2 separate regions of the Homo sapiens genome follow, and region 2 is linked to region 1. The links come from fine-mapping of genetic effects on gene expression. A gene starts in region 1. The other region holds a variant in brackets. All regions are shown on one strand. Distances are from middle to middle.

Region 1 (5,368 bases):
TTAAATGTGAACCACAGAACCTTTCAGAGGTAATAAAGTCATTACTTTTTACACTACAGCCAACCCCGAAAAGCTTTATACACACCATTATATATAAATCATACATATATATATATTTCCACAACACTCACTCGCTCATTTATATATCTTCTCTATAGATGGACTTTTATGGACGGGTGGGAACAATATTCAAATCTGAAAAGCTTGGTTCTGAAAGAATCTGGCTCACTATTGTTACCTGAAGGGGCTTTTCTTTTATTTATTTATTTTTCAAAGGCCTCCCAGTTGCACTTTCTTCTTCCCTCTCTTCACCTTCCCTCCAACCGTCCCCCACGTCGTCCTCCCCCGCCACCCCCCAAGAAGACATTCTTTTGGTGACTCCAAGGCTGGTTTAACAAGACAAAAAGCAGACTGTGGTGGAATAGAGATGCTGACCTGCTCTGAAGAACTCAGTGAAAAGGGGAAATGGTGTCACACACAAGCTACAGAGCTTAACTTCTAGTGAATCCTCCCGCTTCTTAAACAGAATTTGAGGTCTCCCTCCCACAAACTGGAGGGAAACAACAACAAACAACAAACCACATTGACACAATCCCAGTACAGCCCACATCTCTCTCAATGTTGAGCATCAAAACCTCCTTTTCTTCCTTAGAGGGGTCCGAAGCTCCGCCGAGCTAGGCAAGCCAGTCATTTTCTAACACAGTAGACTTGAAACTTTACTAAGACGAAACAGGAATAAACAGCCGCTTGCCGGCAGGGCTGCGGGATGGGTGAGCGCGTGCAAGCCCGGGGCCCTCGCTTAAAACAATAAAGCCCCCCCACCGGGTGGGTGAGTTTACGGAAGCGACACCCTTTAGACTGAAGAGGGGGATGAGAAGACGGGGGTTGTGGAACCGCTCCGAGGAGAGGGAAGGAGGGCTCCTCGCTCTGCAGACACACTCACACATATCCACCTGCAGCTCAGGGTCTCGCGGGCCATGGCGACCCGTCTCCACCCTGCACCCTCCGCACCTCCCTTGGACCTGAGTCCATTCTCCTCTCCCCCCAACTCCTTCCAGATTTGGAATCGGACTGCGATCTCCCCGGCGGCGGCGGCGGCGGCTGCAGAGTGGTGCTGGCAGGCAGGGAGGCTGGGAGGCGGGAGGCGCCAGGGGACTTTACAGGCACGTTTCTGAATAAACTTTCCAATCGCAGGGGGTGCTGTTGCTGTACATTTTACGTAAAACTGAAAGTATCCCACGCCAGAGTGAAGCCCGCTTTTTGACAGCGGCAGCACGCGCGTGTGTGTGCGTGTGTGCATTAAAGAGACAGGGTTTTATTTCCAACAGGTCTTCCCTAATTTCCAGGGAACGTCTGCAGAAAGGCGAGAGGGGGCTGCTGGCTCCTGGGTGTGCGCCTTGGCCGGCGGCGCCTGGGGAGCGCGGCGGTGACCCGAGGCGGTCATCTCACCACCGTGGTCTCCCCGCTGCTCCTGCGAGCCTGTCGCTCTCTCTCCATTCCCATTTTCTCTTTCCCTGGGTAACAGCACAGGAACAGTTGTGCTCTGCCCGTAAGAAACATTTTCTTCCCATCCCTCTGTGCTTTTGCAGTTGCTCTGGAGTGGGAGGGGGTGTGTCCCTCCCAGGGACCCGGCTCGGGGACCTCCCGCGGCGCCGTGAGCACATTCCCAGGGACTGGGACTCCCGGGACTGCCCGCGCTTTGTCCTCGGCCTCTCAGAGAGGTGGACGCCTCGGTGCCTCTCTTGCCCAGGCCCCCGGCGCTCCCCTCCGGGGGCCAGACTCTGGCTCCTCGTTCTTTATTCCTCGGGCTCTCTTTCTGCGACCCTTAGGAGCCGGGGACTCGGCGCTTTCAGTTGCATTCAGACCCAGTCGCTTGGCGGGGCGCTCAGATTCCCGGTCCCTGGCTCGGCCTTGGGGGCGCCCTCGGGCCCCGGCCTGCGCCGCCTGCCTCTCCCCGGTCCCCTCTTTCCAGGCCGCGCGGGCTCCTGGAGACTTGGGCGCTGCCCTTCCGGACCCGCAGCCCTCCAAACTTAGGCTGGATTCCGCGTTGCCGTGCGCTCCCTCCCACCTCCCCTCGCCCGCTGCGGAGCTGTAACTTGGAGGCTCAGCTCTCAACTTCGGGTGATTTTTCTTTGCTGTCCTCTCCTCGGGCAAAGTTTCCCGAGCGCAGCCGCGGGCTCGGGGCTTTTACTTCGGCCCCTGGCGTCCACACGCGGGGAGCGAGCGCGGCGGCGGCGGGGAGGGGAAGTGGGTGTGCGTACGGAGGAGGGTGTCCGGGAGCAACTCTACCTGGCTTCCCTCCGCCCGCGCTTCCCCAGCCCGGGGCTGCAGCCTCCCGGTGCACTCTCGCTCTATTTTTTTCTTTTTTGAATAATCTTTCATTTTAGAGTCCGCGTGTGTGGGGGGGAGCAGGGCGCACGTCTTGCTCCCCCCCACCCTTTCCTCCCACCCCTGCCACCCCTTTCTTCTCTCCCGGCCACGCCACCGCCGCGGCGCTCGCTGCGGCCACTGGTGAGCCCGCGGCCCCAGCGCCCCCTCCCCTCGGCCCGCCCCTCCCCCGGGGGCCGCGTCTGGCGTCCGCGGAGCCCCCCGCCCCGCACCTCCCCCTCCCCGCACTGGCCATTGGCTTGTCCTGGTCTCTTTTTCATGTCCAGCCCCTGATGTGTGTCCATTGGTGTGAGCTTCCCCTTCCCTCCTCCCCTTCTCTCCTGCTCGCCCTGCCCATGTTTTGTGTGTCTCTGTCCATCCAGACTCCTGACGTTCAAGTTCGCAGGGACGTCACGTCCGCACTTGAACTTGCAGCTCAGGGGGGCTTTTGCCATTTTTTTCATCTCTCTCTCTCTCTCTCCCTCTATCTCTCTTCTCTCTCTCTCCCTCTTTTTTTTTTTTTTTTTTTTTTTTTTTTTGCTTAAAAAAAAGCCATGACGGCTCTCCCACAATTCATCTTCCCTGCGCCATCTTTGTATTATTTCTAATTTATTTTGGATGTCAAAAGGCACTGATGAAGATATTTTCTCTGGAGTCTCCTTCTTTCTAACCCGGCTCTCCCGATGTGAACCGAGCCGTCGTCCGCCCGCCGCCGCCGCCGCCGCCGCCGCCGCCCGCCCCGCAGCCCACCATGTCTCGCCGCAAGCAAGGCAAACCCCAGCACTTAAGCAAACGGGAATTCTCGCGTAAGTAACCCAATAATAGTAATAATAATTATTAATAATCACGAGAGCGCGCAGGACTAGAAGCAAAAGCGAGGGGGAGAGAGGGGTGTGTGCATGCATTTTTAAATTTTTCACGAGAAAAACCTCCGAGAGTCGAGGTAAAAGAGATAAAGGGGGAAAAAACCCTCATCCCATCTGGAACCATTGCCGTGTATGCACTTTTGAGACAGCACGCACCTTTTAATTTTATTTAATTTTACAAAAATTTGACTCCTCCTCTTTCCTCCTTTCCGCCGCTTTATTTCTCTTTTCGAAAAGGAATGCAATGATTCCACTCCCCCCCCGCCCCGCCAGTTTTGCAAAATAATGAACAATGCTAAGGTTGCGAACAACTCACATGCAAACCTGGGGGTGGGAGCTGGTGGGGAAAGGGAGGTTGCTTCCCACTCACCGTAAGAAAATGGGGGGGTAGGGAGGGAGTGAGTACAAGTCTAAAAAACGATTCCCGGGGAGAAAAGAGGTGAGACTGGCTTTTGGACACCAGCGCGCTCACGGTCAAGTGTGCAGCGGGAGGAAAGTAGTCATCCCCACAATAGTGAGAAAGTGGCACTGTGGAAAGGGGCCCCCGGCGCTCCTGAGTCCGCGGAGTCGGGAGAGGGGCCGCGGCGACGGGGAGAGCCGTGGGACCGGGAAGGACGGGAGACGCGGCCGGCACTGCCGCCTTTTGTTCCGGCCAGAGGTGGGTGTTTGTCCCGCTGCCTTTTGTGCCGGCTCCTCGCGCTTGCCCTCCCGCGCCGCCGCCGCCGCCGCCGCCGAAGGGCAGGAGCTAGGGCCGGGGGAGGAGGCGGCCGGGGGCACGCGGGAGAGGGAGGGAGGGAGCCCGGACTGCTGCCTCCTGGGTTGCCGCTGCCCTCCCCTCCCGACCGAACCTCAGAGGCAGCAAGGAGAAGACTGGCACATAAATAAATAAATACATAAAAATAAAATAAATAAAACAAGGCAAGAGAATGTACAATTTCTTGCCCCCAAACCGAAGCCAAACGCTCTGCCAACCCTTTTCTGTGACGGCCTTCTCTTTGACTCCCCCACCAGCCCCCCTGCAAAAATCTCACAATCTCTCATCTAGAAAAAAATTTACAATCACCCTCTTCCCCCAAACCCCTTCAGTTGCAAACTTAGGGCGCCGACGGCACGGAGAGGGAGAGAGGAACTCCCTCCTCTTACTATTTTTTGGAAGATTTTCAAAAAAAGTGGAAGTGGATTTTGATTGGGAAAAATCTCGTGTCTGAATGTTTACAAGCACCGCGTGTGCGGGAGCCTCCTGCCAACAAACAGACAGAGGACCGAGCGCGGCGCGGCAGCCCCGGAGCAGGCGGCGGCGGCGGCCTGGCCTCGCCCGGGCCTTGCCCGACCTCGCCGCGCCCCAGCCCAGCCCCGGATCGCCCACCCGGCGCCCGGCGCCCACCCGCCAGGCACGGCGGCAGGCCACGCAGTGTCTCCGCGCCAGCCTGGCCCGTGGTCCTGGTCCGCCCCCAGCACAATGCCGAGACCTCTTCTCGACCTCCCAGACTGCGAAATCGGCTGGGTGAAACTCGGCTTTGCAAAGCATTTTTATTTTGCAGGGCAACTGTAAAAGCGCGTTCTGCGCCTCCCCTCCCCTCCGCCCTGGGTACTTTCTCAGACGTCTCTTGTCCACAGCTCGGGACCGCGAGGAGGTCACCACGTGCTTTCCCTGCCCACCCCCCACCCCGCCCGGTCTGGTCACCAGTCCCCCTGCGCCCCGAGCACGACTAGGCCAGGTGGCGGGGTTGCCGGGGAAGGGCAGGGGAGAAGTGTGTTTGAGTGTGCATTTTAAGGGCGCTGGATCCTGGGACCCCGAGCACTTCACCCTTTGGGTCTTGCCCTCTTCCCCAGGCCTGGCTTGGTCTGAGGTTCTTGTGAGTCTGTATAAGAGCTGGTGGTGGTGGCTGTCTCCCGCTGACTGCGCCTGGAAAGGCGGGCGGTGGGCACTTAGGAAAGTTTGGCAGCAAGGGAAAGAAAGGCGTGAGGGCCCACATTCCCCCCCTACTCAATTTATGATTCTTACTTTAAATTTTTGATGCAGTTTTAAAGGACCACCTATACTTGGTTCTGTGTTTTTTTAAAGGGGTGGTGGTGGGGGGTGCGCACAGGGAATTTAATTTTTCACTGGGCCCTGGAACTTGTCACACACTTCG
Region 2 (5,368 bases), 24 kb after region 1:
GCAGGAACAAAGGCAGCTTCCAACGCTGGTGCAGGATTCCGAGCCTTAACCCAGATGCTCATGGTGCCCTAGTCTTGAGTTCTTCATTTAGGTGGGCTTATTTCCCACTGGGTCTGGGGGATTTCATTTGTCCTTTGAGGGGCAGGGTGGACACTGACAGAACAGCTGCGGCCGGCAGAGAGGGTGGTTAGGAAGAGGGAAGCAGCCTGTGGGTAACTTCCCGACCACATGGAAAGGCTGAATAAGACGTTATGGACCCTGCCTTGGGTACTGGGGTCAGCGTCTCCTGGTGGTGTCTGCACAGGGCCCCCCAATGCCAGGGCACTGCCAAAACACGCTCTTGAGTTTAATGGTAGTGGTTGGTCTGAGTCCTGCCAAAGTGTATGGAGCAAGTTTCATTGGCTGGACTTTCCCCTTGCATGAAATAATAAAAGCCCTGGCCAAGGCTTATGAATCTATTTTTGTTTCATTAATATTATTTATTATGTATTTTATTAATATTTTTTGGAGGGACCTTGCTCTCATTTGACCATTTGTAGTTATAATTAATGCATTCCGTACTGGTTGTAAAAAGTGTGCTTGCATTTAATTGCAAGTCAGGGTAAATTAATGGATATGATTTAAAACAAAACTCACTTAAAATATTCTTGCAGAACGCAAAGGAGGGGGCAGTCCCAGTATTTAATTTATTTTCTGGTTTAGTGTTAGTGTGAGAGGGTCGAAAAGATTCTGTGGGTCCAACGGGATTTGTGTCTGTGTGTGCAGGACCGTCGGGCAACACAGAGGGAGGAGAAAAACCTGGACCGGAGTAGGGTAGCCAGGAGCTCTTTTTTTTTTTTTCTCTAATTTCTGAGGTTGCCAGGAGGGGCTTAAGCAAAGTGGTCAAGTCCATCTGCTCCGGAGAAGGTGGTAAAGAAAAGAGGTTAGTGGCAAGAGGGAAGGAGCACAAAGGGAAAATTGTACATTGGGAGCGTTACTCTCCCTGGCCATGGTGTAGCCAGACTGGTTTAGCAGACAGAATGATAGATTGTTTTGTCAGGGGTCCCAGGGTGCGCCCTGAACTTGAAGCACTTTGTTTATCTTGAATAGAAAGGGAAAAGCGCAGACATAATCGATGTCTAGTTTTTAGGAGCTCGAAAGAGGTAGGAGAACAGAGAAGACTCAGGAGGGGTAGTGGGAGGTGGGGGAGGTGCAGGCCCTGGTTGTGGTTGTCCATTAACAGATGAACTTGGCCGAGGGCCAGGCTTTAGATGAGAGCGTGTCAGGGCCCCAGTGCAGCCAAGCCTTTTCAGTGTTTTTTTTTTCCTTTTTCTTTCTTTCTTTTTTAAATACCTGCTGACTGTACATCAAATGCTCCCTGGTCTTTTGGCTAAAGGCAAAAAAATAAAAAATAAAAAAAAAAAGAGACGCACAGCTCAATTTTTTCCCTCCTCTGAACCAGTTGAGGCCAGTCTTTTGGCTACATATGCGGGTTCTATCATCTTTCCTGGCTTGCCGTTGGGAAAAAAAGTTGTGATAACGCCAGTAACCCGAGGGCCAGATGGGAAGGGTTTGGTTGTGTTCAGGCGACCAGGTGTGAGAGCTCGTGGTGCAGTGGGGTGGGGCGTGGCCGGCGTGCCTGCGTGTGCAGGTAAGAAATCAGTGGAAACTCTTTTTTTTTTTTTTTTTTAAATGGCTGAAGTTTAACTTGTTGGAAGGGCCTGTGAATTAAGCTGTCGGTGGCTGAGAACGATAATATGCAAGGAAGGCTCAAGGAAGGCTCAAGAAAGGCCAGGGGTGGGGAAAAGGTGCTCTTGTTAGAGGCGCAGCCTTTCCTGGGCAGGACCCAGGACCGATGGCAAACCCATGTGTTTGGGCTTGTTTTGTTCTCGATTTTCTTATCTTCTTGGCCTCTTCCTGTGTTTTTTAGTTTATTGTGACATTATGCATTCATATATGAATGTTGGCAAGCAGGAGTCATCATCCCAATAACTTCCTGACATTTTTAGCTCTTTTAATGTGCAGTCTTTGCCCTCCTGCCACAAGTGGCGAAGTAATTGAATTTCCCTGTTACTAACTGGCAGGAGGCATGTTCTAGTTCCCACCAGAGGAGCTGCTGGGGCTAAAGCTGGGTTCATAGAATCCCACCTAGGGGACACCAGGGCTTTCAAGTGGTTTGGGGACCTGTCTGAAATGATATTCACACAATAAAAAATATTTTTCCCATCATAGACTTGAAAAGGCACCATTGTGCACATCTATATAAAATGTGATAAAATCACATTTACTTCCCCTGGCTAGGCCTCATAAGGGAGGCAGGATTTCCTTCTCCTTTTCTAGTAGCAAATAAAAACTGGGAAAATTTGGGGGCCTCTGGGTTTATCCCATGGATACCTGCCCCCGCTCCCGCCCGCCAACTCAGCCAAGCCCTTAGAGGCAGTCTTCTCTCCCACCTAGATGTCTTTGTAACCTGAGCTGGTAAGAAAGGGAGGAGGGACAGAAAGAGGGGAAATATGCCCTTGACATATGATGTATCTTCTTTCTTTTCTTCTTCTCTTTGATTACACGAAATAAAATGGTTTAGGCTGAGGGTAAAGAAGTAATACCATTTCTAGTTGTGCAACCTTGGGCAGATTTCATTCCCTAAGCCTCCGCTTCCTCAATCTGTAAAGTGGGG[A/G]GAATCACGGGGCTTGCCTCATAGGGCCTTTGAGCATCCTATGAGAGCATGTGGGGGCGCTGGGCTCAGTGCTGGGCACATGGTAAAACATGTCACAAAAGCTCATTACTATTACGGTTATGACTCATGGCTTGGAACTGTGTGCTCCTGGGGTCTCAAAGTAGTTCCCCCATTATGGGGTGAGCAGGTTGGGATGAGAGAAGAGCAGGGCAGGTGGGGGTCTAAAGAGCTCAGGGTCTCATTATGTTTCTGGTGGCAGCTCCCTCGTGGGTGGGAGTCCCCTCTCCCCATAGACGTGTGTTGCCTTACGAGAGGCTTGTGCCTGCCTGGGTGTGTGACACAGTTACTCTGGGTTCAGATTTCTATGTTACTGCTAGCTGGTTGGGAGAGTCTGAGGGAATCATTTCACCTCTCTGTGAAATGGAGATAACTCAAGGTCCCTTACCTCATAGAGTCCATGTGAGAAGTAAATGAGGGAAAGCACAGACATTACTCGCTCCGGGGGCTGCACCTCCAGAATTGCTGTTGTCATTATTACCATGTGTCTGACACATTGATATTCCATCCCACAACAACCTCGGAAAGGAAACACTCCCATTAGCCTCATTTGGTAGAGGAGGAAATTGGGGTTCATCAAGGGTTAAATGACTTCCCTGAGGGTCCACAGTTGTTCAATCCTTTGGCCTGCGGCCGCCACCCTCTGCTACCTCTTCAGTACGTTTGCAGCTTTCTTCAGCGGTGCCAGGCAACAACTGGGCAGGAAGCTCTGGTGCTGGACAGTTGTCCCTCCCATGGGTTCTGTGGTCAAGTTTTTCAATCTTCTGGGAAAGAGAAGAATGTTCCCCTCCAGTTCTGGGCATATTGAAGGAGCACGGAGCTGTTGGGAAAAGTTGCAATGTAAGGAATCCTGCTTTGCAAGTAGTCATTTCCCCATCTGTCCAGAATGAGCCTGAAATCAAGTGAGGGTCCTGAGAAACAGAGGGAGGAGGTTTTACTGTTTGTGTGTGGCTTGGTCAGGAGACTGCAGTGGGCTGAATGAGAAACTAAGCTCGGACTTTTAAGAAGTGGTGAGGCTTGGCCTGCAGCAGTTCTGTGTGTTGTCTCTGTGGCATTTACTTCTCGGATCGTACCTTCAAAGGCTGGGGAGAATCAGAATTATACAGGGAGGGAGAGACTGAGTGTGAGTGAGTGTGCGTGGCAGTGGTGTTTCTTAGGACGATGGGTTCTGGGGGGTCATAATCTGCTTCGAGGAGGTTTTCATTTCTGGCTGAACAAGGCTGTGGTAAGGCAAGTCCGGAAGGCATGCTGGAAACTTGAGGGAAGTTTTGAATGGAAACTGCAGTCAACAGCTCCATATGATCCGCATGTGGCTTCCCCAGAGGCAAGTTTTCAGCTGCGTGGTGGCCTCTCCCAGTCACTCCACAGGCTGCCCTGACGCTATTAATATTTGCTGAAGCAAGACCTGAGGTTCGTTGCAGATGGATTACACAATGTATTCCAAAACCAAATGTTACTGTTTTCCTGTATTCTCCATCCTTTCAAATTGGCCAGGCTAACATAGACCTCCACTGAGAGAATTTCAGAATCATTTGGTAGTTGAGAAGCGCCTACTTCATGCGGAGGCCCCGTGGGAGGAGTGGAAGAGTTGGCCTCAGCACTGGCGAGTATCGGATGGGAGCTCTGCTCACTTGGTAAGTCCTTCTGCTAGAACCAAGGGAGGCTGTTCAGATCCATCACAAAGAAGTTGTCGGTCACATCCAGGTTGTCTTCTGAGTTTGAGGTGGGATGGAGGTGGCTGCTGAGAATCCATGTGGGTCAAGAGCTCCAAAGCTTCACTTTTACTTCGCACTCTGTCCCGGGGCATGGACGTCCTCAATGGAGGTCATGCAAGCCCTTCCCCCTCACCCCTTCTCTTGGCCCTCTTCATTGTCTCTACATACCCTTGGGTCAAGAGTGTAGTGGTTCTCCCTTGTCACCCTGGAAGAGAAGCTCTTAGTTTTATTTGCTGGGTCTCCTAGACTGAAATGATAAAGCTGAAATGATAAAAGGCGTATCATGGCTTTAGAACCCTTCTTATTTCCCTCGCTCGCACCCCCTAGTTTTCCTTCTCTTCCCTTGAAAATCAGTGAAAATCAGGCCACATCTCTGATGATGGCCTTTTGTTTCTTTTTCTTTTTCTGTTTCTGCCTTCGTTAGGTAAGCACAAATTTGATGTCCCAAGAGGCAGGCCGGTGACCCTTCAGGCCAAGTGCCTGGATGTGGCAAAGCTACAATAAATATCGAATGGTGAGAGCAATGGAAATTTAGCAAAGCCATAACCGGGGAGACCTCAGAGGGGCAGTGGACTGGTTAAGAGGCTGTTGGATGAGCCGGGTAGTATTTCTACTTCAACCTGATTGAAATGTCGACTAAAAATCAATGCTGTTGACTAGTGATAATTTACAACGTTCCTGGTGCTAAGTAGTTCCCCGCTTAAGAATGCGTTGGCTGGGCAGAGATTAGCGCAGGGAGTTGTGTGTGTCACAATGAATCAGACGCATTATAGGTCAGCCCTTTATTTGTTTCATCATGACTTTTACACAGTTGTCATGTAATTTATGGCTGCTTTCACGTTGTCAAACATTTTCATTGCATCTTCTTCTTTAACACCCTCCTGACATAGACACACTGCACTTGAAGGCTTGGTATTGTTTCATAATCCGAGAGGAGGCC

Which allele goes with the higher level. Positions count from the first base shown, and alleles are read on the strand shown. Sizes are in standard deviations (SD) of each study's normalised expression.
With allele A in place of G in region 2, the expression in monocytes after LPS of the gene that starts at base 2,735 in region 1 is lower (large effect, 0.82 SD a copy in Quach 2016).

Evidence for each region. PIP is the estimated chance that this variant, and not a neighbour inherited with it, causes the effect.
Region 2: its variant is the best candidate, but not a certain one, in a credible set for the expression of BCL11A in monocytes after LPS (Quach 2016, PIP 0.81).

What each region holds. Positions count from the first base shown.
Region 1 is chr2:60,551,021-60,556,388 of GRCh38, reverse strand. BCL11A (BCL11 transcription factor A) reads left to right here and starts at 2,735. Exons shown (of 4, transcript NM_022893.4): 1 at 2,735-3,173. The coding sequence starts at 3,119. RefSeq lists enhancers at 243-851, 1,426-1,475, 5,302-5,368 and silencers at 1,096-1,225, 2,166-2,255, 3,665-4,024, 4,545-4,604, 4,665-4,974.
Region 2 is chr2:60,526,634-60,532,001 of GRCh38, reverse strand. The region is part of intron 2 of BCL11A (BCL11 transcription factor A); the gene reads left to right. Among named protein-coding and RNA genes, the nearest start is that of BCL11A, 24 kb to the left of the region's middle. RefSeq lists an enhancer at 1-171 and a silencer at 1,192-1,261. The variant A/G (reference allele first, on the strand shown) is at 2,657.